Homo sapiens: one gene and its partners. The protein of the gene in region 1 interacts with the protein of each later gene in a biochemical or structural test. Each region holds a gene or a part of one and is shown in the gene's direction. Other genes may lie near its edges.

The links.
Region 2: the proteins of TPT1 (region 1) and RHEB form a complex in vitro, tested with the Homo sapiens proteins (one study listed by IntAct).
Region 3: the proteins of TPT1 (region 1) and EEF1A2 form a complex in vitro, tested with the Homo sapiens proteins (one study listed by BioGRID).
Region 4: the proteins of TPT1 (region 1) and SIRPA form a complex in vitro, tested with the Homo sapiens proteins (one large-scale study listed by BioGRID).
Region 5: the proteins of TPT1 (region 1) and NOTCH3 form a complex in vitro, tested with the Homo sapiens proteins (one study listed by BioGRID).
Region 6: the proteins of TPT1 (region 1) and TSC22D1 form a complex in vitro, tested with the Homo sapiens proteins (one study listed by IntAct).

What each region holds. Positions count from the first base shown.
Region 1 is NC_000013.11:45,335,578-45,339,963, reverse strand, and holds part of TPT1 (translationally-controlled tumor protein), read left to right. Parts: intron 1-361; coding exon 362-467; intron 468-1,187; coding exon 1,188-1,304; intron 1,305-2,354; exon of another isoform or gene 2,355-2,410; coding exon of another isoform or gene 2,411-2,488; exon of another isoform or gene 2,489-2,575; coding exon 2,576-2,578; 3' UTR 2,579-4,386. UniProt on the Homo sapiens protein: Involved in calcium binding and microtubule stabilization. Acts as a negative regulator of TSC22D1-mediated apoptosis, via interaction with and destabilization of TSC22D1 protein.
Region 2 is NC_000007.14:151,477,338-151,482,617, reverse strand, and holds part of RHEB (GTP-binding protein Rheb), read left to right. Parts: intron 1-5,202; coding exon 5,203-5,280. UniProt on the Homo sapiens protein: Small GTPase that acts as an allosteric activator of the canonical mTORC1 complex, an evolutionarily conserved central nutrient sensor that stimulates anabolic reactions and macromolecule biosynthesis to promote cellular biomass generation and growth.
Region 3 is NC_000020.11:63,488,416-63,493,695, reverse strand, and holds part of EEF1A2 (elongation factor 1-alpha 2), read left to right. Parts: intron 1-408; coding exon 409-559; intron 560-2,960; coding exon 2,961-3,217; intron 3,218-4,543; coding exon 4,544-4,778; intron 4,779-5,270; coding exon 5,271-5,280. UniProt on the Homo sapiens protein: Translation elongation factor that catalyzes the GTP-dependent binding of aminoacyl-tRNA (aa-tRNA) to the A-site of ribosomes during the elongation phase of protein synthesis.
Region 4 is NC_000020.11:1,915,191-1,920,470, forward strand, and holds part of SIRPA (tyrosine-protein phosphatase non-receptor type substrate 1 isoform 1 precursor), read left to right. Parts: coding exon 1-265; intron 266-5,280. UniProt on the Homo sapiens protein: Immunoglobulin-like cell surface receptor for CD47. Acts as docking protein and induces translocation of PTPN6, PTPN11 and other binding partners from the cytosol to the plasma membrane.
Region 5 is NC_000019.10:15,157,613-15,161,621, reverse strand, and holds the end of NOTCH3 (neurogenic locus notch homolog protein 3 precursor), read left to right. Parts: coding exon 1-960; 3' UTR 961-2,584; downstream 2,585-4,009. UniProt on the Homo sapiens protein: Functions as a receptor for membrane-bound ligands Jagged1, Jagged2 and Delta1 to regulate cell-fate determination.
Region 6 is NC_000013.11:44,568,912-44,574,191, reverse strand, and holds part of TSC22D1 (TSC22 domain family protein 1), read left to right. Parts: coding exon 1-1,029; intron 1,030-5,280. UniProt on the Homo sapiens protein: Transcriptional repressor. Acts on the C-type natriuretic peptide (CNP) promoter. Acts to promote CASP3-mediated apoptosis.

The sequences.
Region 1 (4,386 bases):
TCTAGAATCTTACAGGATTTAAAGATTGGCTAACTTTTGAGGTTCTTTCGCAGTGGGTATACTTTTGTGAAAGTCCTTGCTTTTTTATTAATGAGTTCACGGAAAAGAGTGGTTGCTTTTCTATAATATGAGCATACTGAAGCCTGCAGTCTGTTTCCGTTTAGAATTAGAATAGTATTTTGAAAATAGTCAACAAGAAATGTAAACATTCTTGAAAGATACCTTCTGTGAACTAGTAATTTCTTAACAGCTGGTTGCCTTTTTCAGTGTTTTCTTTTTTTAAGCTTGGATATTTTTTACTTTAAAAATTGATTTTACTGAAAATTCAATACTTCAACCTGTTAATGAAATGTTGTTTTAGAATCAAAGGGAAACTTGAAGAACAGAGACCAGAAAGAGTAAAACCTTTTATGACAGGGGCTGCAGAACAAATCAAGCACATCCTTGCTAATTTCAAAAACTACCAGGTAAATACCTTAAGTATCTGGATCAAAGGATTGTACAATTTTAACTGCAAGAGCAAAAATTAAGTTGATTAATCTTCAATTCTATACTAGTATTCCAGGTGTAGAAAGTGGCTTTCCCAGCTCGCAGGTGTTTCCAAATCTTGTCTTCTGATTGAAAATTTGCTTCCCAGATGACATTTCTCAGTTTTTCTTTTTGTGAATTGCTTAACCACCTAAGTGTTCTTTCAGTTTTTTGCTTACAATTTTAATGTGTCTCATTGCTACTGGTCCTCCTTCTAATGTATCTGAGCTTGTTAATTCTACTTTTGGAAAATGTCAGTGGCTTTCCCTTTCCTCTAATTTTCCAGCTTCATGCATCCCCTGGCCATAAGATACTTCCAGACTGTATGATATATTCTATCACTGTCAGCCTTATGTTCCCTGTGGTTGACTATATAAGCACGCTTTAGGGTTTGGGATTGTATTTAGGATTGAGAGTAAAGGTTTCCTGAAAGCCTAGTGTTCCTGGATTGCTCTGTACGTTATTTTTCTATTTAGGTCACTATTAAGGTGCCTTAATCCAGTGAACAGATGTCTATGATAAGTGAGCATCAGAGCTTTTGGGTACTGAAGTTTTGATTTTTGTGGTGGTCTAAACCTTCCCTTGTACTGTAGTTTGTTTTGAATGGCATGTATTTGTATGTAATAGTCTAATTCTAGGTATTTTGTTTGCTTCCCAAGTTCTTTATTGGTGAAAACATGAATCCAGATGGCATGGTTGCTCTATTGGACTACCGTGAGGATGGTGTGACCCCATATATGATTTTCTTTAAGGATGGTTTAGAAATGGAAAAATGTGTAAGTACAAGGAAGTGGGTTAAAATAAATAATGTAAAAAAGACATTTTAGATGTGATTTGCAATTGTTTTGTGACACTGAGAATGAGTTTTACAGCGTTCTGAAACATGGTTTTAGTTTTCTCTTTGGGGATCAAGAGAATTGTGTTTCATATGTAAAAAATTCTTAGGGTATAAAAAGGCTTAGAATCTTATTTGTGGAAAACGTTGAGTGCAGATGGGGCATAATAAAGTACAGTTTAGGCTGGGTGTGGTGGCTCACACCTGTAATTTCAGCACTTGGGACGCCGAGGTGGGTGCATCACCTGAGGTTGGGAGTTCGAGACCAGCCTGGCCAACATGGCGAAACCCTATCTCTGCTAAAAATACAAAAATTAGCCAGGCATGGCAGCGGGCACCTGTAATCCCAGCTAATCGAGAGCCTGAGGCAGGAAAATCACTTAAACCTGGGAGGGGGGTTGCAGTGAGCAGAGATCCCACCACTGCACTCTATCCTGGGTGACAGAGTGAGGTGCTGTCTCAAAAAAATACAGTAGAGTTTAAATGCTGAAGGAGATCAGAGAACACCATTGATCTTCCTCTAGATATGGCCTCACTTTCACTTCATAATCATATTTTGCTGTATACGTATGGATCAGTATCAGTGGTTTTCACTTTGGTTTACTGATAATGGGCAGCTGATCATTGAAAAGCCTAGTGCAGTACTAGCTTAGTAAATAGAGCTGACTGCTGAACTGGTATGCAAATTGTTTTACTAATAATAAATAACTTGGTGTCTTCTATGGAAGGAACTGCTGGAAGCTGTACAGAAACAAAGGCATTCATTATCCTAGTTTTCATAGGCTTCTGTATAAGGAAGAAGAAAAACATAAAGCTATACTGAACAAGATTAGAGTCAACAGTAGACAGAAATTACTTAGAACAGTATAAGATGACTTACCAAAGGGGTTATTCAGACAGTATCTGAGGTTTTTGTTGGTAGAGCAGGGTGTGGGTGGTACATGCCACAGCCTTCTGAAAAATGAGCTACCGCTGATTTGGTAAGGGTGTTCTGCATCCACTGATAGACCTTGAACAATTTACTGTTGTTCTTTTGGTTTGCACTAGGATGCAAAAGAAAGAAATCCCTGCGCTTTCTGTCTGTCTTTGTGGCGGCCCAGATTGAATTGGGGAATACATCTTTAGCCTGGAAATGTAGGCTGCATGTTAATGGTAATGTAACTTTTGCAGTGTAATGTTTGAAAAATATTAATGTAGTTTTTGCTTTTACAGTAACAAATGTGGCAATTATTTTGGATCTATCACCTGTCATCATAACTGGCTTCTGCTTGTCATCCACACAACACCAGGACTTAAGACAAATGGGACTGATGTCATCTTGAGCTCTTCATTTATTTTGACTGTGATTTATTTGGAGTGGAGGCATTGTTTTTAAGAAAAACATGTCATGTAGGTTGTCTAAAAATAAAATGCATTTAAACTCATTTGAGAGAATGCCTTTTAGTTTAATGCATATTTAAACTAAATTGATCCTGTAGTGTTCCTGGAGAAGCTAGAGCCTGATTGTAGGCTACTACTCATCAATTAACTTCTACAGTGGAGACTACTTCTGGGACTGGAATATAAAAAAGAATCAAAGGTTCTGATTTTGAGTTGCAATAAAGGGAAAGACCATGCTCATAGCAGTGCCAACATCTGAAGTGTGGAGCCTTACCCATTTCATCACCTACAACGGAAGTAGTTAACTGGAAGAGATTACCAAGAGAATAAAAAGAGACTCATTCAGTGGAAGCAACTTTGTCTCAGCTTATTTCACATAAAGAGAGCGAAGTCTTTTGGGATGAATGTTAATTAAACTCCCTGGTAACTAGAACAGGGACTGGCAAACTAGCCTATCTGACCACCTGTTTTGTACACTTTAAGGTGGTTGGTTGCCTTTTTAAATGGTTGAGGGGAAAAGAATACCTTGTGGGATATGGAATTTAAGTTCGAGTCCAGTTTTATTGGAACGTGGCTATGCTTATTCATTTATGGATTGACTGTGGCTGTTGTCAGTGCATGAGCAGAGTTGTGTCTAACAGACTAGAGCCTGCAAGTTTGCCAGCCCCTGATTTAAAAGATGAAGGTACACAGAATGTGGGCTGGCTGGTGGGCAAAGGGGTAAAAATGTTCTCTATATTGTATCTGAAAAGATGGGGTGTCTGAATAAGAAAATGCATCTATTTGACAGACCTGGAGCAGTTGCTATCTGCTGCTATGGTTTCCACCACAGATGCAAGAAGAACATGTCCTTGCGCTTTCCGTCTGTCTAATTGTGGCAGCTGAGATTGAATAGAGGAATACAGGAGGAAAAAAAGCGGGAAGAGTTTTTGAGGCAGGTCGGTCACCCAGGCTTGTAGTGCAGTGGCACAAGCAACTCACTGCATTCTCTGCATCCTGTGCTCAAGCCATTTTCCCACCTCAGTCTCACTAGTTGCTGGGACTGCAGGCATGCACCCCTATGCCCAGCTAATTTTTGTAGAGACCGAGTATCGCTTAGTTGCCCAGGGTGGTCTCAACTCCTGGGCTCAAGGAGATCTGCCCACCTCAGCCTCCCAAAGTGCAGGCCTAGCCTGGGAGGGGAATTTTCAAAACGTGAGTTTTGGGAAATAGTCTATCAGCCTTACCTGGTTGATTACACTTGTAAAAGAAAGATTAAAAGCAGGCCAGTGACTCTGGTCTGCTTGAACATGTGAATGTAGTGGTTTGAGCAATCTGGAGTTTGCCCTAGTGTCAAATTCCAGACTGTCCATAGTGTCCAAAACCTGAGGCAGATACTAATGTTAACCCCCAGCACCCCGTGATTGGAAACAAACCTAAATACGTATTGGGAACTTAATAGCAATTTTAAGCATTCTGATAGATTTTTTGTAGGGATGGGGTCATGCCATGTGGCCCAGGCTGGTCTGAAAACTCTGGCCTCAAGTGATCTCAAGCTTTGGCCTTCTAAAGTGTTGGGATTACAGGTGTGAGGCATTGCACCTGGCTTAGCGTTCTGATTTGACATTGTAATGAAAAGTGTGAGTCTCATCTACAGGGCCTTT
Region 2 (5,280 bases), on another chromosome or scaffold:
TGGAATCTCCTTTAAGCTCCTGAAAACTGGTGATGAGAATGTAAATTGATAAATCACTTTCATGTAATGTTACTGTGGAAACACGTTTTGTATCAGGCAATTCAGGGAACCAGTATTTCATAACTGTTTGGAGTGTGGGCCCTGGGGTTACACTTGCCTGGATTTGAATCTTGGTTTTTGTTGCTAACCCAGTAACCTTAAGGAAGCGAATGAGGGCTGGGCATGGTGGCTCATGCCCTTAATCCCAACACTGTGGGAGGTGGAAGGATCACTTGAGCCCAGGAGTTTGAGGTTGCAGTGAGCTGTGATAGCACCACTGCAGTCCAGCCTGGGCAACACAGCGAGATCCCATCTCTTTACATAAAAGGGTGAAGAAGTCTTTCTGTGCCTCAGAGCTTTATCTATAAATAGTGATAACTGGCATTGTTGCAGGATTGTCACATTGGGGTTAAAGAGGCTGTGCTCTTTCTTTGTAGACCTTCAATGCTGCTGAGGCAAGTGTGACGCCAGCATATTAACTGTGTTGACAGGCTGCATGGTGGAAGTGCACATGTTCTTAATACTTGGAGAGCTGTCTTTGAAAAGATTTCTCTAAAGAATAAATTTCTTTATACTGACTACTTATCAAGTTGGAATATGTGTTCCTCTGGGGTACTGTTTTGCCCTGGAACATAAATGTACACTCAGGTATCAAACAATTTAAAATATTTTAGTGATGTAGTAATACAAATAGTGAAACCAAAAGCACCAGTGTTTAGGAAGAGTATATGATATGAGATAAGACAAGAGCAGTGGTCATATTAGCAGCCCTGTTGTCTTGCCCCTTCGGGTTATATTACAACTGGGTAAGAGTATTTGGAGAATTTTTGCACAAAATATATCCAAATTTGGCTACTTTAAATTATTTGTAGTCATTGCAACTAGTAGTTCTTGAAGGTTATATTTACAGTTGAGAGACAATAAATTAAAGATGTGCTCTTTATTTACAGCTCAGGATGGTGGCACACAGGCATGTCCTGCCGTGGTTTCACCCTTCATTCTGTTGAAAACTGGATGATAACAAACTCAGGTGTTTACTGCTCCAAGAGCTGCTTTATAAATTGGATGCATACGGGGGCTGGTTCTAGGATTAAGACTGGTAGTAGTAGGGTAAAATGATTAAGGGGCAAATTCTTTTAAAAGTAATCTATAGTAAATTTGTTCACTGGCTTCCACATTTCAGGAGTGAAATTGCACGCAGTGAATTGCTGCATAGCGGTATTTGTTAGCAAGTTCTATTTACTACTTAGTAGTTTATGTCGGTACATCCATACCACTATGGTTTAATAGTGGTTTAATTGCCCACCTAGGAATGATGATGAACATGGTTAAATACAGATTATTTTTAGATTGCATGAAATATTTTGGTTTTGCCCAATTTTAGGGTGAGAACATATACCCTAAATGAATTTTGGGGTAAGAATGTGAAGTATCAAAAAAAAAAAAAAGTAGCCTCTTCTATATTAACCTATTTATGCCTGGTGTTACATTATTGGAACGTTAAGCTTGTGGGAGTTATTTATATCCTACTGCTCAAGGTCACCAAGGTCTGATTTTTCATGAAAAAAAAAATTTTGCAACCTCCGGCATAAATGGGTTAATAACTTAGATTCACACCTGTAATCCCCGCACTTTGGGAGGCCAAGGCGGGTGGATCACTTTAGGTCAGGATTTTGAAACCAGCCTGACCAACATGGTGAAACTCTGTCTCTACTAAAACTACAAAATTAGCCAGACATGGTGGTACATGCCTATAATCCCAGCTACTTGGGAGGCCGAGGCAGGAGAATTGCTTGAACCCAGGAGGCGGAGGTTGTAGTAACCCAAGATTGCACCATTGCCCTCTAGCCTGGGCAACAAGAGTGAAACTCTGTCTCAAAAAAAAAAAATAATAATTAATAATAATTAAAATTGATTCAATGACAATCCATCTTATAATGTAACCAAATTTGCTTTTTTGAAAATTGAGTTTAATTTTTAAAAAATAGGTGTAATGCGCATGGTACAAAAATAAATAGTGCCAAAAGGTGTAAATAGTAAAACTTAAGACGTTCCTACCCTAGCTATCTAACCCCCCACCCCCACCAGCAACCACATTTACCAGTTTCTAGTATATGCCTCTAGGATACTTGATACATGAATATGCAAATATAGTTTTAAGCTTGGGTTTTGTTTTGTTTTTTTTCCTTTTTACACAAAAAGTAATACATCTCCCTCTTGGAGATTATTCCATATCAATACCTATGGCCTCCTTTTCCCCCAAGGCTGCGTAATATCCAGTTGTTGGGATATATATCCTAAGTTAACTGCTGATCAACAGTTAGACTGTTGCTGGTCTTGCTACCATCAGCAGTCCCTTAATGAACATCCCGGACGTTGTTTTAGACATAGGGTAATAATGCACATAGGAAAACTTCCTGGATGTGGGCTATCATAGGGTTACAGTTCATGTTCTTGCCAGCAGTGAATGAGAGTGTCTATTTCCCTACACCCTCACCAGCACTATGTGTTAGCAAACGTTTTGGTACTTACCAATCTGATAGGTGAGAAAAAGCAGTGTACTTTTAAAAATGCAGTGTACTTTTAATAATGCACTTTTCTTCTTAGGAGGGGCTTTGATTTTTCCTATGTTAGAAGATGTTTGTATTTTTCCCCCTATGAATTATCCTGTCTGTGTACTTGGCCATTTTTTTTCTATTGGGTGGTTGGTCTTTGCGTGTTGATGTGAGATTCCCCTTGATATGTGAAGAAAATTAGCGTTTTGTATATGATCTGAGATGCACAGTTTTGTTTTCAGTTTGTCTTTTATTTATGGTTTTTATTTGAGGGGTTTGCAGCCATGAAGAACTTTTTCACATAGTTGAATTTATTTATTAATCTTTTTTTTTTTTTTTTTGAGACGGAGTCTCGCTCTATCGCCCAGGCTGGAGTGCTGTGGCGCGATCTCGGCTCACTGCAAGCTCCGCCACCCAGGTTCACACCATTCTCCTGCCTCAGCCTCCTGAGTAGCTGGGACTACAGGCGCCCGCCACCACGCCCAGCTAGTTTTTTTGTATTTTGAGTGGAGACGGGGTTTCACTGTGTTAGCCAGGATGATATGAATCTCCTGACCTTGTGATCTGCCCACCTTGGCCTCCCAAAGTGCTGGGATTACAGACGTGAGCCATTGTGCCCGGCCTTATTAATCTTTTTTTAACTGATAATGTATTTTAAGCTCTCCCATCTATCATACGCATCGTTTTCATCTTTAAATCTTTGCTTCCTCTGGAATATGTTTTTGCCAAAGTGTGAATTGGAGTTCCAGCTTAGCCATTCATCCTCAGGTGGCTCTGGGCTTGTCCCTACACTCAGTTGAGGGTTACTTTTGGTCCTCACTGATTGAAATGCCAATATTATCATGTACCTCATTCTCATATCTGTCAGGTCTTTCTGGATTTTTCAGTCTGTTCTGTTTGTGAGCCAGTACAGTATTACTTATGAGAGCTTTATGATTTCTACTCAGCTGCCCTCCCAATTGCTATTATATTGTTATATTGCTATTATTCTTTCTCAGAAAGTAGACTTTAAAGGCCGGGCACAGTAGCTCCTGCCACTGCACTCCAGGCTGGGTGACAGAATGAGACTGTCTCAAAAAAAAAAAATCAGACTGGGTGCAGTGGCTCACACGTGTAATCCCAGCACTTTGGGAGGCCAAGGCAAGCGGATCACCTGAGGTCAGGGGTTCGAGACCAGCCTGGCCAACGTGGTAAAATCCTGTCTCTACTGCAAATGCAAAAATGAACCAGGTGTGGTGGTGTAGCCTGTAGTCCCAGCTACTCAGGAGGCTGAGGCAGGAGAATCGCTTGAACCTGAGAGGTGGAGGTTGCAGTGAGCTGAGATAGTGCCATTGCATTCCAGCCTGGGCAACAAGAGGGAAACTACGTCTCAAAAAAAAAAATCAGAATTATATCAGCTGGGGGCTCTTTCCTCCATTATACCTTCTAACTGGTAGTTTTTTACTCAGTGCTTCTTAGACATAACTTCTTTTTTCTATGTTTCCACAGTTTCCCTTTAGGGAAAACAGAATTTTAACTTTGAACCTACTCTAGCTGAGCTAGTGATTAAAATCATTTGGGATTTTGTTTTTAATCTTATTTATTATATCAAAGAATTTATAATAAAACTTAATTTTTCTTTTCTTTTTTTTTTTTTCTTTAAAGAACTTTACCATAGGGCAGTAATTCTGGGCTGTCATAAACAGTGGTTATAACCATACTATAAGTTTACAAAAATAATAGACTGCTGCTTAATCTTCTGGTACCATGATGTGATTTTTCCATAATAGTGCTTAGGACATGTGTTATGTTGACAATTTAGTTTCAACTAAGAATGAAACGTTCGTACCAGACAGTGGCGCGTGCTGTTGAAAACTGCACTGACATCAGAACTTTCTGTATGCTTTAATACGTATATAAAGCAAAGTGTCATAACGCTGCTTTATAAAACTAAAGACTACTGTGCTGTTGCGTAATAGGTACCTTTCTCTTTAATTCCTAGAGTTGCTCAGTAAATAACTCTCTTGGTCCCCAAAAGTCTGAATACCTCAATTGAACCTGGTGTTTTGATCCTCTTTTCTCTTTCTCTGTTTCTCTCTCTCTCCCCCACCTCCCTCCCTCTCTCCCTCTCTCCTTCAGATGCTGATGGCACCCCTCTAGCAACCTGTAGACTGAAGCTCAGGTCATTGTGACTGACATGCAGAGAATAAATCAAATAATATGCCAGTTTCAAATATAAAAATACAGATTTATGGGATAAATCAGCAGGATTTATAAATGTCCTGAGGTCTAGAAGGTTCTGGAGTTAGTGATGCTCATCCCTTGTTTTGAGATCACAGAGCCAATGATTTTTGTGTTCCATCCATCCTCTTCTCCCAGAAATTATGAAGGTCATCAGACTTTCCCCTAAAGTTCTAGAACAGCTAGTCATTTTTAAATATTGGCTTGAACCACATTATCACCTCCAGGCCATTCTTAAAGCTTCACTTTGTAGGCTGTTTCTGGCATAATATTGTAATCCACTCTGCGTCTACTTTGATTTCTTCAGGTAATACATGAAAAACTTTGGGTAAAGTTTGTTTGTGATGCTATATGAAGACTACTCAAAGATAATTTTTTTTCCCCACAGGATGAATATTCTATCTTTCCTCAGACATACTCCATAGATATTAATGGCTATATTCTTGTGTATTCTGTTACATCAATC
Region 3 (5,280 bases), on another chromosome or scaffold:
GCGAGGCTCCTCCAGCTCTGTCCCTGGCCTGGCCCTTGGCCAGACTCAGCATCCTCCTAGTCAAGTCATCTGCCCTGCCTGGAGCTGATGGTCAGGGGCCCGGGGTTTCGGGGACTTGGGGCTGGACTGGGGATTTGTTCACAGTGTCAGCAACTCCTGAGCAGCCTGGGCTGGGAAGGGTGCTTTCCCTCTTTGTCCTCCTCCTTTTAAGAGGGATCTCCTTCCCAGAGTCCCTGTGATGCTGGGGCTATGGGCTGGGGAGGAGCAGGGTGGGGAAATTCCTCATCTCAAAGGGCACGAGGCAAGTTTAGCCTGAACAGCAGTACTCCTGGAAGCACCCTGGGGAGGCCTGAGGGTGGGGAGGCCACCAATGTCTCTTAACGGATTGATTTTCTCCCTTTGGTCCAGATGCCGTGGTTCAAGGGCTGGAAGGTGGAGCGTAAGGAGGGCAACGCAAGCGGCGTGTCCCTGCTGGAGGCCCTGGACACCATCCTGCCCCCCACGCGCCCCACGGACAAGCCCCTGCGCCTGCCGCTGCAGGACGTGTACAAGATTGGCGGTGAGCAAGGGCGCTGTGCTGGAGCTCCTGCCTGGCCAGCTCTGCCTGCCCTAGACCAGGGGCCCCTACAAGGCATCTCAAGACTGGGCTGTCTCCAATCTCTCCCCTTACCACACACTTTCTGTGGGACAGTCCATCCCACATCCATCCATCCATCCACCCACCTCCCCACCCATCCATCCTCTGTCCATCCATCCACCCATCCATCTATCCACCTCTCCATCCATCTATCTATCCATCCATCCATCCATCGATCCATCCATCTCCCCACCCATCCATCCTTCACTCCATCCATCCATCCATCCATTGTCCCATCCATCCTTCTCTCTATCGAACCATCCCTCCATCTCTCCATCTATCCACCTCCCCACCCATCCATCCTTCTGTCCATCAATCCATCCATCCATCCATCCATCCACCTCTCCATCCATCCATCCATCTCCCCACCCATCCATCCTTCTCTCTATCCATCCATCCATCCATCCATCCATTGATTGTCCCACCCATCCATCCTTCTCTCTATCCCTCCATCCATCCATCCATGCATCCATCCATCCATTGTCCCACCCATCCATCCTTCTCTCTATCCATCCATCCATCCTTCCATCCATCCATCCACCTCCCCACCCATCCATCCTTCTGTCCATCCATCCATCCATCCATCTCTCCATCCATCCATCCATCCATCCATTGTCTCAACCATCCATCCTTCTCTCTATCCATCCATCCATCCATCCATCCATCTACCCACCCATCCATCCTTCTCTCTATCCATCCATCTATTGACCCACCCATCCATCCTTCTATCTATCCATCCATCCATTCATCCACTCACCCACCTACCCACCCATCCATCCTTCTGTACATCCATCCATCCATCCATCCACCCACCTACCTATCCATCCATCCTTCCATCCATCCATTTATCCATCCATCCATCCATCCATCTATCCACCCACCTACCCACCCATACATCCATCCATCCACCTCCCCATCCATCCACTTCCCCATCCATCCATCCATCCATCCATCTCCCCATCCACCCATCCACCTCTCTATCCATCCATCTCCCCACCCAGCCATCCTTCCCTCCATCATCCATCCATCCATCTCATCCATCCGTTCATCTCCTCATCCATCCATCCATCCATCCATCCATCCATCCATCCATCCATCCACCTCCCCATCCGTCCGTCCATCCATCCATCCATCCATCTATCCCCCCATCCATCCATCCATCCATCCATCCATCCATCCATCTATCCATCCACCTCCCCATCCATCCATTCATCCACCCACCTTCCTACCCATCCATCCTTCTGTCCATCCACTCATCTACCTCCTCATCCATCCATCCATCCATCCATCCACCAATCCATCCATCCATCTCCCTACTCATCCATCTCCCCACCCATCCTTCTGTCCATCCACCTCCCCATCCATCTACCACCCCATTCATACATCCATCCATCCATCCACCCACCTCCCCATCCATCCGTCCATCCATCCATCCATCCCACCAAGAAGAGAAACCATAAACAAATCTGAGACCCTAGAGAAGGGCACTGATAGGAGACCCCCAGCCAGTGGGCTGCAGCCAAAGATGTTGCAGGCATCTCTGTGTGCACTGTGGGGGCATCATGCTCACCCCAGCACAGAGCACAGCCACTGGCCTCAGTGAAGTTGGCTGGAGGCTACAACAGGCCTCCCTCACAGCCCTGGGAGGTGAGGGTGGAGACCCAGTAGCCTGGGGGGGGACAAGACCCCCATGTGGCAGCTGCACAATTGGTTTAAGTAGATCCATGAGAAATGCCAGGGACGCTCATGTGCCGCTGTGCCTGTGCTGCATCTGGCTGAGAGGCCCCTTTAGTGATAGAGACCTGCAGCATCCAAGTGGGGCCCAGAGAGCCTGCAGGGAGCAGGGAGCAGGGCCTGCAGGGAGCAGGGAGCAGGGCCACCAGGCCCCAGGCAGAAGCAGTCAGTCGCCCCGCCCACACTCACAGGGAGGAGTCCTCAGACAAAGGAGGGGTCCCATAGTGCCTCCTTTGAGGGAAAGTGCTCTCCGGGGGCAAGGATGGGACCCCAGGTTCAGACAGCCCCTCTCTGCCCATCCTCCCGCTTCTCTGTCCCTGTGGCTTTTCCGTGGGTTCCTGGGAGCTCTGCTGCTCAGCCTCTTATTTCCCCAGCTGGGTGGGAGAGCCCCCACTTCCCTTGGAATCTCTGTGTCTGCCCTTGTCCCTGGCCTCCCTTCCCCTGCACTCCGCCCATGTGGCCCCAACCCCCAGGCCTGTCGGGGGGATCCAGTCCCAGGCTTTGTTGGTTTCCAGGCTCTGTCCCCGAATATCCTGCCCCAGCATCCCCTCGGGCCCCACCTTCCCCTCACACCCCCTCCCCTCTGCAGGCATTGGCACGGTGCCCGTGGGCCGGGTGGAGACCGGCATCCTGCGGCCGGGCATGGTGGTGACCTTTGCGCCAGTGAACATCACCACTGAGGTGAAGTCAGTGGAGATGCACCACGAGGCTCTGAGCGAAGCTCTGCCCGGCGACAACGTCGGCTTCAATGTGAAGAACGTGTCGGTGAAGGACATCCGGCGGGGCAACGTGTGTGGGGACAGCAAGTCTGACCCGCCGCAGGAGGCTGCTCAGTTCACCTCCCAGGTGGGGGGCTGCGCTGGGTCCAGGGGGCTGGCGCCTGCTGGACAGCAGCAGGACTGTCCTGGGTGAGGCTGCTGTCGGCAGGTGGCCTGGCGTGGGGAGAAAACCAGACCCTCAGGCTGGGCGCAGTGGTTCACGCCTGTAATCCCAGCACTTTGAGAGGCCGAGGCGGGCAGATCACGAGGTCAAGAGATCAAGTCCATCCTGGTCAACATGGTGAAACCCCGTCTCTACTAAAAATACAAAAATTAGCCAGGCGTGGTGGCACGTGCCTGTAGTCCCAGCTATCAGGAAGCTGAGGCAGGAGAATCGCTTGAACCTGGGAGGCGGAGGTTGCAGTGAGCCGAGATTGCGCCACTGCACTCCAGCCTGCGTGACAGAGCGAGACTTCGTCTCAAAAGAAAAAAAAAAAAAGAAAAGGGACCCGCATACCACCGAGGGGGCCACCGAGCACTCAACGAGGGGATCAATCAGTTCTGGGAGGGGTGCAGGCCCTGTGGCTCCCAGCCTGTGTGCAATCGCGGGTCTGTCTTCCACGCTGCACTGCTGGGATGCCCAGCCTTTGAGGTCCTACATTCGTCCTAGAAAAACGCTTTTGTTAACTTACTGTCTGAGACATCTCTGTCATACTTTTATTCTCTACAGTCTTCATTGCCCCTCTTTGCTGGCCTCTTCATATGATTTATTTATTTTTTTTTTGAGACGGAGTCTCGCTCTGTTGCCCAGGCTGGAGTGCAGTGGTGCGATCTCGGCTCACTGCAACCTCCGCCTCCCGGGTTCAAGTGATTCTCCTGCCTCAGCCTCCCAAGTAGGTAAGATTACAGGCATGTGCCACCACGCCTGGCTAATTTTTGTATTATTAGTAGATACGGGGTTTCACCATGTTGGCCAGGCCGGTCTCGAACTCCTGACCTCAAGTGATCCACGTGCGTCAGCCTCCCAAAGTACTGGGATGACAGGTGTGAGCCACCGTGCCTGGCCTCTTCATATGATTTTTAAAAGTGGCTTTATTGAGATACAACTGAAACACAGGAATTGAGGTCCAGTTTTGTCACCCCCCCGCCTTAGTTCCAGCTGGGGTTGGCCGTGTAAGTGCTGCCCCTGCCCCTTCGAAACAATGAATCTCAGTTGTTTATCTTTTGCTTAATGAGGATGTTGAGGTTCAGGTCTGGGGGCTGGGTCCTCAGAGCCTGAGCCCCCTCCAGTCAGCACTCCGGGCCCAGGAGCCCGTGCAGGGGCGCCGGTGACTGGGCCTCCCAGCCCCGCTCTGGCGCCCTCCCGGTGCCCACCGCCGATGTGCCTGATGGCCGCCTGTGGCTCCGCTCGCAGGTCATCATCCTGAACCACCCGGGGCAGATTAGCGCCGGCTACTCCCCGGTCATCGACTGCCACACAGCCCACATCGCCTGCAAGTTTGCGGAGCTGAAGGAGAAGATTGACCGGCGCTCTGGCAAGAAGCTGGAGGACAACCCCAAGTCCCTGAAGTCTGGAGACGCGGCCATCGTGGAGATGGTGCCGGGAAAGCCCATGTGTGTGGAGAGCTTCTCCCAGTACCCGCCTCTCGGTGAGCCGGGGTGGTCCGGGGAGGTGCAGCCCCCAGGCTGTGGCTGATCCAGGCTGAGGGCAGAGGACTGCGGGGATGGGGCGCTGGGGACAGCAGTGGGCCCCCTTTCCTGCGGAGCTTGGCCCAGAGCATGGCAGGAGAGCCACGGCCTCCGTGTCACTGAGTGCAGGTGACCCTGCCCAGACGAGCTGGGGTGGGCCCTGTGTGCAGACGAGGCCCCGAAAGTGAGGGAGGCCCCGCGAGTGAGGAAGGCCCGCGGTCGCCCAGTGGCAGCGTTAGGGCTGCCCCCGCCCCGTGGCCGCCCCGCAGACCGTGGAGCAGCCGCCCAGGCAGGACTCCCGCGAGGCCGGCCGTCTTCACAGGGGCGCGCTCTGCGCTAAGCGTGTTCCGAGGACATTCCCGACGCGGTTGCGCCCCCGCCCGGCCAGAGCCCTGGGGTTGGGGGGGGTCAAGTCCTCCGGCCCCGCCCACACGCCGCCCCCCGCCCCCCAGGCCGCTTCGC
Region 4 (5,280 bases), on another chromosome or scaffold:
ACCTCTCTGATCCCTGTGGGGCCCATCCAGTGGTTCAGAGGAGCTGGACCAGGCCGGGAATTAATCTACAATCAAAAAGAAGGCCACTTCCCCCGGGTAACAACTGTTTCAGACCTCACAAAGAGAAACAACATGGACTTTTCCATCCGCATCGGTAACATCACCCCAGCAGATGCCGGCACCTACTACTGTGTGAAGTTCCGGAAAGGGAGCCCCGATGACGTGGAGTTTAAGTCTGGAGCAGGCACTGAGCTGTCTGTGCGCGGTGAGTACAGCGTGGGCCTCCTTTGCCTCTGGTTTGTGACAGTAACTCAATAATAACACCCTCCATTCTTTGAGCAATGATCAGGTGTGGTGGTAGGTGCTCCTTTCCATGAATTGATGTCTCCCCCTTTTACAAATAAGGGAAGTTGAGGCCTGAAGACGTCATGCTATTTGCTGAAGGCTCCACAGCTGGTAAAGGGTGGGAACATCTGCATCCTTCATCTGCCTGGCTGTGTAGCCCTGGCCTCTTCAAAGCTGACCCAGCCCTTTCATTCCACAGATGAGGAAACTGACAGATAGTGTGACTTGCCCAGGCACAGGACCAGACCTCACCTGCTGCCTCCAGAGAGCACTTCCCTCTCAGGGCAGCCGAGTCTCCTCTATGTGACAGGCACTCACTGAGAACCTACTGTGTGCCAGGCTCCGCCAAGCTTGTGTTCTCATCCCTTCCAATAAGAGATCCACCCAGGGCAGGGAGCAGAGAGGGTGTGTTTCCTTTATTTCATCACCAAACACCAACTGAGAAGATTCCTAAAAGGCACAGATTTACTGTTTAATCTGATGGCCCTGGTGAGAGGAGAAGCCAGAGGGTTGGGCATTTTCTGTGGGTCTTTTAGAAAAACACTTGTGTGATTTAGGGACTGATTCATGCGTCACTAAAGGCTCTGAACAAAGCTGGGTCATCATAGAATGTCTCTCACCCCAGGGAGGAGGTCTCCCTTCTAGGTGACTTTGGGTTCCTCCGTTAAGGCAGCAAAGATGCTCATTTTGTATTTACTGCCAGAGCCCCAGGATCCTTGTTCTAACTCCGAATCCTGGGACATTAGTACAGGAAGGACCCTCAGACCATCCAGCCCAACCCCTAGTTACAGGTGGAAACTTGAAGTCAGGAGATGACAGGGGCCTTGTCCACAGTCATAGGCCCAGTTAGTGACAGGATCTGGACCAGAGCCCACATCTGATTCCAGGGAGGCTCCTTCATTAGCCATTGTTTACATAGAAGAGCCTGGTGCATCATAGGTGCCGACTGAAAGCTCCTTGAACAGAACTGCTAAGCAGGAAGCCAGCACTTCTCCTTTCCATCAGTTTCCTAAAGGTTCAGAATATTCACATTCAGACCGTTAGGCCCACTGGTGATTGGAAAACCGCTCCCAAATGTAAGCCATATCATTTGATACTGAGATTTCATATCAGGATAGAGACCTGCTCCATTGTGTAATAGCTACAGAATACTCCAGCTTATGGAAATACCAGATTTATTTTACCATCTTCCATTGATGGATACGTAACTTGTCCCCAAACTTGAACTATTAAAACAGTCCTGCAGTGGATGACCTTATACATGTGTGACCTTACTCAGGTGGGAGACGCCCACTGCAAGTGCCATTGCTAGATCAGAGGGGGTGTGTGTTTTAATGTGTGTGGATATGGCCTAATTTCCCTCCTAGACATTATAACAATCAAGTCTCCCCACAACCGCTGGACATAGGCAGGGAGGGTGGCTTTATCCTGATTGTGCAGATGTTACAGGAAAAGACGTTGAAGTTCCCAGATGATGCATCTCGTGCCTAGACAATCACAGCAAATACGTGGCTCAGGTGTGACCCAGATCTGCTGACTCCTAGCAGAGTGCTCACTCCTCTTTGCCATGCTGTCAGCCTAAATGATGCCCTGGATGAGAAAGGAGGGAGGTGGGAGGGGGCCAGGGAGCAGCAGCTGGATTGGATCCTCATCCTGGCACTTTCTCCTTTTATAACAAGTACTTATGAAGGAAGAGCCATTTCTTGCCCCCTTTACAGATAAGGACTCTGAGGCTCAGAGAGGAGACCTGTGTGGTGAGCCAGTGGGGGAGCCAAGGTTTGATCCCCACCAGCCTGACTCACAGCCCCTGTCTCTGTAACACTCAGCTATGCTTGTCAAAGTGTGGAGAAATGCTCCACCCTACTCATTCCAAACTCTTGCAGTTCTATAGCAATAAGCATAGGCTGAGGCAGGAGAATGCTTGAACCCAGGAGACGGAGATTACAGTGAGCCGAGATCGCACCACTGTACTCCAGCCTGGGTGATAGAGCAAGATTCTGTCTTGAAAGAAAAAACAAAACAAGTCCTATGGGAGTAGGAGGGACTGGCCCCCATCAGAAAGGTCCTGCAGATGTCTCATGATATGGGAACTTGTTCCTAAAGGACAGGTCTCAGCACATCACTGAGTAGCATCCATGGAGCAGAGTTGGGCCTCCTGCAGCCCAGCAGACCACGTGCCCACCTACTCACGGTGCTGAGGACTAAGGATGAGGAGATGAGGCATTTCCTGGTGGGTGCTTGGGGCTCATTGGAGCAAGAGTTTATATTATCCCCTCAGGCTGTCAGGAGCCCACTGACTTCAGTTTATGGCTATAGGGTAACCAGATCTGGGTACCCTGGAGGGAGGCTTCTCCCTAGAACTGCATGAAGTCAGGGATCTCAAAGGGAAAAAGGGAAGGTGGTGGTCAGTGTCAGGGTTCATGAAGTTCAGGCACTTGCTCAATTGATTGACATGAGAGCTTGGGGAACACTGGAAATGCCCATTGGGTACATGAGGGATGAGGAGACAGTGCCTTCGCTTTTCTCAGCCTCAGTTTCCTCATCTGTAGAATGGTGATAATCAGGGACTCCTTTGGCAGAGTGGAAAGGATTTGAGTTCCTGTGTATAAAACACCCAATGCAGAGTAGACACCCCCAAATCAAGGTTTTTTGTTTGTTTGTTTGTTTTTTCTTTTTTTTTGAGATGGAGTTTCACTCTTGTTGCCCAGGCTGGAGTGCAATGGCACCATCTCGGCTCACTGCAACCTCCACCTCCTGGGTTCAAGCGATTCTGCTTCAACCTCCCAAGTAGCTGGGATTACAGGGGCACCCACCACCACACCAGCTTTTTTTTTTTTTTTTTTTTTTTGTATTTTTAGTAGAGACATGGTTTCATCATGTTGGCCCGGCTGGTCCCAAACTCCTGACCTCAGGTGATCCCCCCACCTCGGCCTCCCAAAGTGCTGGGATTACAGGTGTGAGCCACTGCGCCCTGCCATCAAGGTGTTATTTTAAGATGTGTTACCTTGGGCAACCCAGTTCCCCTTGCTGAGCCTCAGTTTCCCCATGCGTAGAACGTCGATAATTGTACCAACCTTTCCAGGATGTTATGAGGATGCAATGAGCCTGGGGCGACGATAGACCTTAGTAAGCAATGGGGTTTTCCCAAGGTCATGTGATCTTGGGCAAATCCTGGCTTCCCTTGAGTCCTCAGCTTCCCTGTCTATGAAATGATGATGATGATTGCCAACCCTCACAGGTTCTGTGAGGATTGGAGAGGATGTACAGAGCCTCGGAATGGTGGCGGTGTTCGGGTTATCACTGAGCTCCTGCAGAAGTGTGGTTAGGAGAGTGTGGCCAGAGTCCAACTGCCTGGGCCACATCCCAGCTCTGCCACCTCCTGGCTCTGTGACCTGGGACAAGGCACTCCACCACCATGGGCCTCAGTGTCCTCACTTGTCAGTGATAACACCAACCTCACAGACCAGGAGTTGGGACCGAATGAGTTAAATCCTGTAGCGTGCTTAGGGCAGCAGGCGCCTGGCCTGCAGTCAATGTTCAACAGATGTGAGCTGTGTGATGCTGAAGCCATGCAACCTCAGATGGGTTAGTGCTCCTCCAGGCCTCAAGGATAAATGGTCCTTAGGATGTACTCAGGTAGTTTTCAATCTTGGCTGCTCTTTAGGATCATCTGGGAAACATTGAAATAAATCCCAGGCTCCACCACAGAAATGCCTCTTCAATTGGCCTGGCATGGGCCTAGGCATCTAAAGTTTTTAATTAATCCAGAAGATTCTAATACAGAGTCAGGACTGAAAACCCCTGGGATAGACACCCAGAGGTCACGGAGGACAAGTTGGAAAAGATGGTCCTCTTGGGGTGCCAGATGGGAGAACAGCTTTTCAGGGTGTGGATGCTTCTGAACAACGTGCACCCGGGACAGCTCTTTGGAGGCCCCAGTGGCCTGGCCAGACCCCCTCTTATGATACAGGCCTCGGGGGCCAAGGTAGGGGCCCCAGACAAAGCCCTGCTCAGATCCAGCCTCAGTGTGGGGAAACCTTCCATCCTGAAAATGTTTTTGTCTAAATGACCGCCGGAATCCCAGCAAATCCTTCCAATTCGGCCCCAGAACCCTCCCTGCCTCGACACACCAAGATGTCACGGAGGAGTCTGTTCCCTCCTCCTTTAAAATGCTTCCAGCTTCTGTAAATGGCTCTTCTGGAGGGAGGCGCCTGTGATCTTGTGTTTTGAAAGCCAATTCGCCAAACTTGTTTCCTGAGGGGATTGTTTAGAAAAGGGGAGAGAATCCTCACTTGGTGGTTTCTGCTCCTTGTATCATTTGGGTTTGTCATGAGCCACAGGGAGCAGGGTTTGAGCCTTTTCTTGGTGTTTCTGCTCTGCTTTGTTCTGCTGCCTGAAGGATAAATGTGTAGATTCGGAAGCAGTAATGACCAGACCTCCTGATAACAGTCACAGGGGTCATTTATTAAGCACCTGCTGCATACCAGGCTCTGTGCTTGCATTCATCCTCCCTCTTCTTAACAGGGTGGGGTTTGTATCCACTTTTGGCCCTGGGCCTCTCTGAGCTTTGTCCTAAAAGGGGCTCACACGAGGATCCCCTCACAGAGATGGAGTGAGGATTAAAGAGCTGACGGGCATGGAGGGAGCAGCCAGTGTCCAGCTCCAGAGAAGCCCTGGATAAATGGGAACTGATTGCAGCCCCTCAGCCCTGTGGGGACATCCAGGCCGCTGGCCTCAATGACTTGACTTCTTCAAGTGACACCCTCCTTACTGTGCCCTCAAAATGTTTGATGGGTGTGAGGGAGAAGTTAATATTTACAAATGCAAGTATGTGTGATATGTGCTTCCTGGTGACTGCGATAGGAGGTATGGGGTAATGATTAGCAATTTGGAGACACGTTTACGACCCATCTGCAGGGAGAAACAGCCCGCGTT
Region 5 (4,009 bases), on another chromosome or scaffold:
CACCTGGACAGGCTGCCGCGGGACGTAGCCCAGGAGAGACTGCACCAGGACATCGTGCGCTTGCTGGATCAACCCAGTGGGCCCCGCAGCCCCCCCGGTCCCCACGGCCTGGGGCCTCTGCTCTGTCCTCCAGGGGCCTTCCTCCCTGGCCTCAAAGCGGCACAGTCGGGGTCCAAGAAGAGCAGGAGGCCCCCCGGGAAGGCGGGGCTGGGGCCGCAGGGGCCCCGGGGGCGGGGCAAGAAGCTGACGCTGGCCTGCCCGGGCCCCCTGGCTGACAGCTCGGTCACGCTGTCGCCCGTGGACTCGCTGGACTCCCCGCGGCCTTTCGGTGGGCCCCCTGCTTCCCCTGGTGGCTTCCCCCTTGAGGGGCCCTATGCAGCTGCCACTGCCACTGCAGTGTCTCTGGCACAGCTTGGTGGCCCAGGCCGGGCGGGTCTAGGGCGCCAGCCCCCTGGAGGATGTGTACTCAGCCTGGGCCTGCTGAACCCTGTGGCTGTGCCCCTCGATTGGGCCCGGCTGCCCCCACCTGCCCCTCCAGGCCCCTCGTTCCTGCTGCCACTGGCGCCGGGACCCCAGCTGCTCAACCCAGGGACCCCCGTCTCCCCGCAGGAGCGGCCCCCGCCTTACCTGGCAGTCCCAGGACATGGCGAGGAGTACCCGGCGGCTGGGGCACACAGCAGCCCCCCAAAGGCCCGCTTCCTGCGGGTTCCCAGTGAGCACCCTTACCTGACCCCATCCCCCGAATCCCCTGAGCACTGGGCCAGCCCCTCACCTCCCTCCCTCTCAGACTGGTCCGAATCCACGCCTAGCCCAGCCACTGCCACTGGGGCCATGGCCACCACCACTGGGGCACTGCCTGCCCAGCCACTTCCCTTGTCTGTTCCCAGCTCCCTTGCTCAGGCCCAGACCCAGCTGGGGCCCCAGCCGGAAGTTACCCCCAAGAGGCAAGTGTTGGCCTGAGACGCTCGTCAGTTCTTAGATCTTGGGGGCCTAAAGAGACCCCCGTCCTGCCTCCTTTCTTTCTCTGTCTCTTCCTTCCTTTTAGTCTTTTTCATCCTCTTCTCTTTCCACCAACCCTCCTGCATCCTTGCCTTGCAGCGTGACCGAGATAGGTCATCAGCCCAGGGCTTCAGTCTTCCTTTATTTATAATGGGTGGGGGCTACCACCCACCCTCTCAGTCTTGTGAAGAGTCTGGGACCTCCTTCTTCCCCACTTCTCTCTTCCCTCATTCCTTTCTCTCTCCTTCTGGCCTCTCATTTCCTTACACTCTGACATGAATGAATTATTATTATTTTTATTTTTCTTTTTTTTTTTACATTTTGTATAGAAACAAATTCATTTAAACAAACTTATTATTATTATTTTTTACAAAATATATATATGGAGATGCTCCCTCCCCCTGTGAACCCCCCAGTGCCCCCGTGGGGCTGAGTCTGTGGGCCCATTCGGCCAAGCTGGATTCTGTGTACCTAGTACACAGGCATGACTGGGATCCCGTGTACCGAGTACACGACCCAGGTATGTACCAAGTAGGCACCCTTGGGCGCACCCACTGGGGCCAGGGGTCGGGGGAGTGTTGGGAGCCTCCTCCCCACCCCACCTCCCTCACTTCACTGCATTCCAGATGGGACATGTTCCATAGCCTTGCTGGGGAAGGGCCCACTGCCAACTCCCTCTGCCCCAGCCCCACCCTTGGCCATCTCCCTTTGGGAACTAGGGGGCTGCTGGTGGGAAATGGGAGCCAGGGCAGATGTATGCATTCCTTTGTGTCCCTGTAAATGTGGGACTACAAGAAGAGGAGCTGCCTGAGTGGTACTTTCTCTTCCTGGTAATCCTCTGGCCCAGCCTCATGGCAGAATAGAGGTATTTTTAGGCTATTTTTGTAATATGGCTTCTGGTCAAAATCCCTGTGTAGCTGAATTCCCAAGCCCTGCATTGTACAGCCCCCCACTCCCCTCACCACCTAATAAAGGAATAGTTAACACTCAGTGTTGTTGGTCTGTGTCTAGGTAAGGTGGGGAGTGGTGGCAGTGGGACTTCTATCTCCCCCACCCAGGGCTAACTTGAGCTCCCATCTTGGGGTAAATACATTTGACTTGCCAGTCTACTTATGCTTCCTCTTTTGGCAGATGACTACCGATTGGATTAGTGGTTGTCACCTGACTTAAGCTGAGCCAATCAGATTCTTTTGCTCGAGAACTTTCTTTAATGGAGAGGCTAAGAAAGTTGTCAGTTGGTGGAGCTCTTAAGGTCACAATCAGATTTAGAAATATCAGTGGCCAATTCGAGGTGGTGGGCAAAGAGACAAGCAAACAGGGCAGAAGAATGAAGCTAATATTCAGGGAGAATCAGAAATGAGAGCTCAAATGGCTCCTTGAGGGCTGGGGGGGTTATCTCGGCTCCCAGTGCAGTTATCAATTCCAGTTAATTGAGTGTTCATTCCATTGAGATCAACAGGTATTTATTAATTGCTTTCTAAGTATCTGATCATGGTTCTGCATGAATTTCACTTTTACTTCATGCTCCTATGGGTTTTGGAGATAACCTTGGACCCATGTAATAAATACTTCTTTACTTGTGCCAGCTTCGGTGGGTTTCTGTTACTCGCAACCAGTCGTGCTCCAAGACAAGGTTCTGTTTACACTGGTGTCTTCAGGAAAGGAGGATAGGATTTAATGTTCGTTGATTCTGTCAGTTGGAGTGCTCCTGGTTGCAAATGACACAAAAGTCTACTGGCTTAAACAAGAAAGGGGTTTATTAGCTCATATAAATTAAAAGGACCTACTTCAGGGGAGAATTGATCTAGTGGCTCAAATGTGGTCAACAATGGCTCAGTTTCTCTTCATCTCTACAGCTTTCTCTGGGCATCAGTTTCATCTACATGCTCCACATGGCACCCAGTAGAACCTCTCTTCCCGACATCACACAGCTCCAGCCTTCTCTCTGTGTTATCAAAATAGGTGCCATATTGCTCCTTCCAGGGAAGAGAGAAACTCCTAGTATTGTGATTGATTTTTCTTTTACTTTCTTCCTTTTTTTTTTTTTTTTTTTAAGATAGAGTCTTGTTCTTGTCACCCAGGCTGGAGTGCAATGGCACAATCTCGGCTCACTGCATCCCCCGCCTCCGGGTTCAAGCAATTCTCCTGCCTCAGTCTCCCAAGTAGCTGGGATTACAGGTGTCCACCTCCATGCCTGGCTAATTTTTGTATTTTCAGTAGAGACAGGATTTCACCATGTTGGCCAGGCTGGTCTCGAACTCCGGACCTCAGGTGATCCATCCACCTTGGCCTCCCAAAGTGCTGGGATTACAGGCATGAGTCATCGCACTCGACCTTGTGGTTGATTTTTCTATTGACTCCAATTGGTTCACGTATCCACCCTCTAACCTAAGGTTTCTTAATTTCGGCATTATTGACATTTGGGGCCAAATCATTCTTTGCTGTGGGGAGCTGTCCTGTGCATTGTAGGATATTTAATAGCATCTCTGGTCCCTACCCATTAGCTACCAGCAGCACCCCTTTTCCAGTTGTGACAACCAATATAACATGTCTCCAGACATTGCCAATTGTCATCTGGGAGGCAGATTCACACCTGTTGTTGTCTTAAAGCATGTCTTAAAGTCTCTTCTTTGGAACTACTGATGTGCTAAATTTAGGGGCAATCAGGTTTGCAGAAGCATGAATTCTGTGGAAGCTTCTAATAAATGTTTACTCCTCTCCCACCCCCTTTAGGCTAAGTCTTTGAAGATGAAACAGTCTCTTTTAGGTTTGTCTCAACTTTATTTTATGTTTATTCCCTTACCCTCTAACCTGTATTGGGCACCTACCGTGTGCCAACTCCCGGACAAGTTGTTGAGAATAGAATGGTGAATTATATAGGCCCAGTCTCTGCTTTTATGGAATTTCAGGCTAGTTGAGGGATGTATGGGGGGTGCACCCCTGTATACCCTTGGAACTTACCATTCTAGTGCTTGCTGACAGCATCTGACTGAACACCTGAGACTCTCCA
Region 6 (5,280 bases), 770 kb from region 1:
GTATGGACAACAGCAACCAATGGTTTCTACACAGATGGCCCCAGGCCATGTCAAATCAGTGACTCAAAATCCTGCTTCAGAGTATGTACAACAGCAGCCAATTCTTCAAACAGCAATGTCCTCCGGACAGCCCAGTTCTGCAGGAGTAGGAGCAGGAACAACAGTGATTCCTGTGGCTCAGCCACAGGGTATCCAGCTGCCAGTGCAGCCCACAGCAGTCCCAGCACAACCTGCAGGGGCATCTGTCCAGCCTGTTGGCCAGGCTCCGGCAGCAGTGTCTGCTGTACCTACTGGCAGTCAGATTGCAAATATTGGTCAGCAAGCAAACATACCTACTGCAGTGCAGCAGCCCTCTACCCAGGTTCCACCTTCAGTTATTCAGCAGGGTGCTCCTCCATCTTCGCAAGTGGTTCCACCTGCTCAAACTGGGATTATTCATCAGGGAGTTCAAACTAGTGCTCCAAGCCTTCCTCAACAATTGGTTATTGCATCCCAAAGTTCCTTGTTAACTGTGCCTCCCCAGCCACAAGGAGTAGAACCAGTAGCTCAAGGAATTGTTTCACAGCAGTTGCCTGCAGTTAGTTCTTTGCCCTCTGCTAGTAGTATTTCTGTTACAAGTCAGGTTAGTTCAACTGGTCCTTCTGGAATGCCTTCTGCCCCAACAAACTTGGTTCCACCACAAAATATAGCACAAACCCCTGCTACCCAAAATGGTAATTTGGTTCAAAGTGTTAGTCAACCTCCCTTGATAGCAACTAATACAAATTTGCCTTTGGCACAACAGATACCACTAAGTTCTACCCAGTTCTCCGCACAATCATTAGCTCAGGCAATTGGAAGCCAAATTGAAGATGCCAGGCGTGCAGCGGAGCCCTCCTTAGTTGGCTTACCTCAGACTATCAGTGGTGACAGTGGGGGAATGTCAGCAGTTTCAGATGGGAGTAGCAGCAGCCTAGCAGCCTCTGCTTCTCTTTTCCCGTTGAAGGTGCTACCGCTGACGACACCCCTGGTGGATGGCGAGGATGAGAGGTAAGATCATGTCATATTTCTGGAGACATTCAACAGATTTGAAGTTAATCTATTTAGTAGCTATATGTATGCACAAAATGACTCTAAAACATTGTATATTGTGTTTTGTATGTGAAAAATGCATTTTTATGGGAAGTTTTATAGAGCAAGAGTTATGGAATGGTTTCAGAGGGAGTAGGAAATAATAGTAATATGTAAACAATATTTTCAGAATAGTTGTTGAGCATGTGTTCACATTAAAAACAGGTTTGGGGGCGCCAAGTGGTTTTATTATCTCTAAAATGCTTTTTAGAAATATTATGGAAAGCTTAATTTTTGCTAACCCACATAATAGTTAATCTATTTTGAGCTGCTAAAATAATCTCTTGGGGGGTTGTGGTTCCCACGTTTGTTCTCCTTTACTAGACATCCCTTTTTCATTTCTACTGTGTTTGATCTTAGTCTGTGAAAGATATTGTTGCCTACTTTTCCTAGTCAGATATGGTAGGAAAGATGACTTAATCTGGGTTATATAGGTTGCCCTCATACTCCAACTGACCAACTTTTGCGTACTTATTTAATGGTCATTTTATCTGAACAGTAAAGGAATGGGAATCTTATTTTGTGGGAAAGGAGGACATAAACTATCAAAATAACCAGACTTATCTTGATAGTATGCTGAACATTTTTTCTTTTGCATGGTAGATCAAGGTGGTAGCCATTTTAAAGAACAGAGAAAGTAAGTCTTGGAGGATTGAATTTATAGAGGCGTGAAAATAAGACCTTGGTCTCTGGCTAATCTACTCCACCTGTTCCTTTCTTTCCTTACCAAAAAGATACAGAAAGCCTAAAGTACATTATTAAACCAAGCGTTTTTTCACGTAGATTGGAAATAATATGCCAGTAACGCTTATTGAATCAAATTGTGTCTTTGAAGCTGACTGGCTAAAAAAGTTGTGAAATCTTTCATGTTGATTTTTAAAGTAATGTTCTTTTCACAAATTTTCCAGTCTGTTACTAACCTTGATTAAAATGCTATTATAGGAGTTATGAAAAGACATCATTTTCACGGTGGAATTTGGAGTAAGCGTGCAAGATATTTAATTATTTTAGTATTAGTTGGAGGGTTTTGTGATTGAACTTTCATCAAGCGAATTTAAGCATTTATATTCTATATGTATGTTTGTGGGTTTTGCTTTGGAAAAATTGAGCATATTGCAAAATAGTTGTAATTTTAGAAAAAGAAAACAGGTCAAATGTTTCAGTGAGGTTTGTGTTATTTAGTTGTTTAAAAGGTAAGATAAAGACATGGTTAAATTGATAAAATCTTATCTTTCAAGATTTTTATTATTTTTCTAATAGTCAGGTAATTAAAACCTTGTTACCTAACCAAATGTATTCTGTATTATTTGTACAAAACTGTACTCTAAAAGATAAACTTTTAGGAGGTAGTTTCCTTAATTGTTCCATTATTATTGTTAAACCTTTAATTTTATCATGCTAATACTCAACTAATTTTAAAAGAATTACCACAAATATTAATGTTTTTTAAGTCAAAAGGTTATGATTTGAGTGAAGCCTCTATAAAAACAGCTATATTATGTGGATGCTAAGTTTAGAGAAACAAAAGACGGGTAAAATACACAAACAAAAACACTCATTTTGAATTCAAACTTGCCATGATTTTGTAATTGCCATTTGTGGTCTCCTGGCTTGACTTTCACCTCTTTTTCCTCCTATTGGTAGGACATGATAGGATTTTCCACAGCTTGCCCTTCCAGGCAATTAAAGTCAGATGATGCTACTTTCAACTAGAGTTTTAACTATAGGAATAGGGTCCCAGTTTAAGATATTAATATAAAATTAATTTTTCCAGATAATAATTGAGAAAAGGAATAATAAGGTGGAAATTATGGAATTCTAGAAAGGGACAAAAAGACATACTGAGAAATAAGGAAATATAGCTCTAATACAAGTTGTCTTCAGACACTGTACACATTCAATTATAATTATGTTTAGCAGTCTCTCCCACAAGACCAGGAGTTCCTCAAGAGCAGGGACTGTTTTGAATTTACTACCTATTTGGGCCTTGGTTAGTTAACATCAAAGTTTCGTGATTAAAAACCAGAAAATTTTTGTTTTAGCGGTATCTTAAATTCTGTGAAATCGGAATGTAGCCCTAAAACACCTTGTAAGATCAGAAAAGATATATATTATATTCTTTATTGTGTTTTACTGAAGATTATTTATCACTACAGTTTGGAAAAAAGTTAATTTTCATTTAAATTTGCCCTTGGAAGATAATTTAAGAATAACTACAAGAGAAAACAGTGATATGATTAAAAAACAAACTTTTAAAACCTTTCTTCCCATGGTAGCTTCTGTTGTCACTTGCATCTTCTGGGCTTGGTCACCATTAGTCTCAGGAGAGAGGGAATACATATATAATTTCAATATTATGAATCAGGAAATGTGTTAACAATATAATTTGGGCAGTAGGACAGATGAGGATGGTTATCTTTTAATCATCTTTTGAAATAATACTCTTAACACTTTAGATTATAAAATGTTTAGACATGTGGAAAGTGCCTTCAGTTGATCACTGGGAGAGACTATAAACATGGATCAGGATGCTAAGATTATGTATCTTGTTTTAAAAAAAATCATTCTTATTTAAAAGGTCTTAATGTCAGGCCGTGTGCGGTGGCTCACACCTGTAATCCCAGCACTTTGGGAGGCTGAGGTGGGCAGATTGCTTGAGCCCAGAAATTTGAGACCAGCCTGGGCAACATGGCAAAACCCTGTCTCTACAAAAAAATACAAAAATTAGCCAGGCATGGTGGCGCATGCCTGTAGTTCCAGCTACCTGGAAGGCTGAGGTGGTAGGATCCCCTGAGCCCTGGAGGTCAAGGCTGCAGTGAGCTGGGATCATGCCACTGCACTCCAGCCTGGGTGGCAGACCAGGACCCTGTCTCTAAAAAAAAAAAAAAAAAAAGTCTTAATGTCTTAGACTGTAACATGAACTGTGAATTCACCTTTACAAGAATGGGAAAATACAGGTATTGCATCTTTTATGTTTTGTGATTGTTATTAGCACAGCCTCTTAACGTGAAATGGGTCAAACTTCTATTCATCCTTCAAGACTCAGCTCAGATGTTCTCTTTAAAGCATTCTTTTCACTCAGGGGACATTGTTTCCTTAGCACTTTTTAATATTCCTCTATTTAAGCACTGTACACATTCAATTATAATTATGTTTACCAATCTTTCCCACAAGACTAGATGTTCCTCAAGGGCAGGGATGAATTATTTTTTTGAATTAATTAGCAGGCATTTCTCCTGATTTTTTTTTTGTCATGATTTAAAGTTTATATTGTCCCTCATCTTAAGCACAATTGTGAGAGATGCAGGATCATATAATTTATGCAACAAATGGAAAAGAACTGAATAAAAAGACTTGCTTTTTTGTATCTCTCATCAACATTTTTAGGTGAATTGATGTATGTCTGCAAAGTACATTGCCTGTTTTATAGTAGGTCCTCAAATATTTAAGACGCATGTGTGTTACCTATAAAATAGGAGTAATACTCATTTTGCCTGCTTCTCAGGATAGCAGTAGTATCAGTTAAAATACTTTGTTAACTAAAATACGAAATTATAATTTTTAAAGTTTTTTTTTCAAGATGTACATGCACAGTTTAAAGATAGTTTAAATGGTTTTCCAAGAAATAAATGGAAGAGCTTCCTGCACCCTTACTTTCCAGTTTTCCTTTCCTAGAAACAATCACTTTCACCTCTTTTAGATGATTATTGTGGTATTTACCTCCCAGTCTCTAAATAACTTGCTTGTCTTACCACTAGATATGTAATATAGCCTGCTCGTTAGGAGCATGGACTGTGGAGTTAGATTGCCTAGATTTGATCTTTCTTGTCATTTACTAGTTTTATGTAACATCGGGCTATTTATCCTCTTTATGGTTCAATCTTCTCATTAAAAAAATGATGACAATAGTAGTTACCTCATTGGGTTGATATAAGAATTAAATGAATTTGGAAATTCCCTAGAACTTTGTCTAACTCACATGCCCTATGTAGGTATTTGTTAAATAAAATACACCTTTCATTTCTTTTTGTCTGTATTAACTTCCTGGATAGAAAATGAAGATTTAATTTTGTTGTTACCATATACCTACCTGGTCTCCTTTTTTCCCAGTACCCTTCCTCCCAGTAGTTATCAATATTGATTATTCAGTATTCTTGTCAAATATTACTT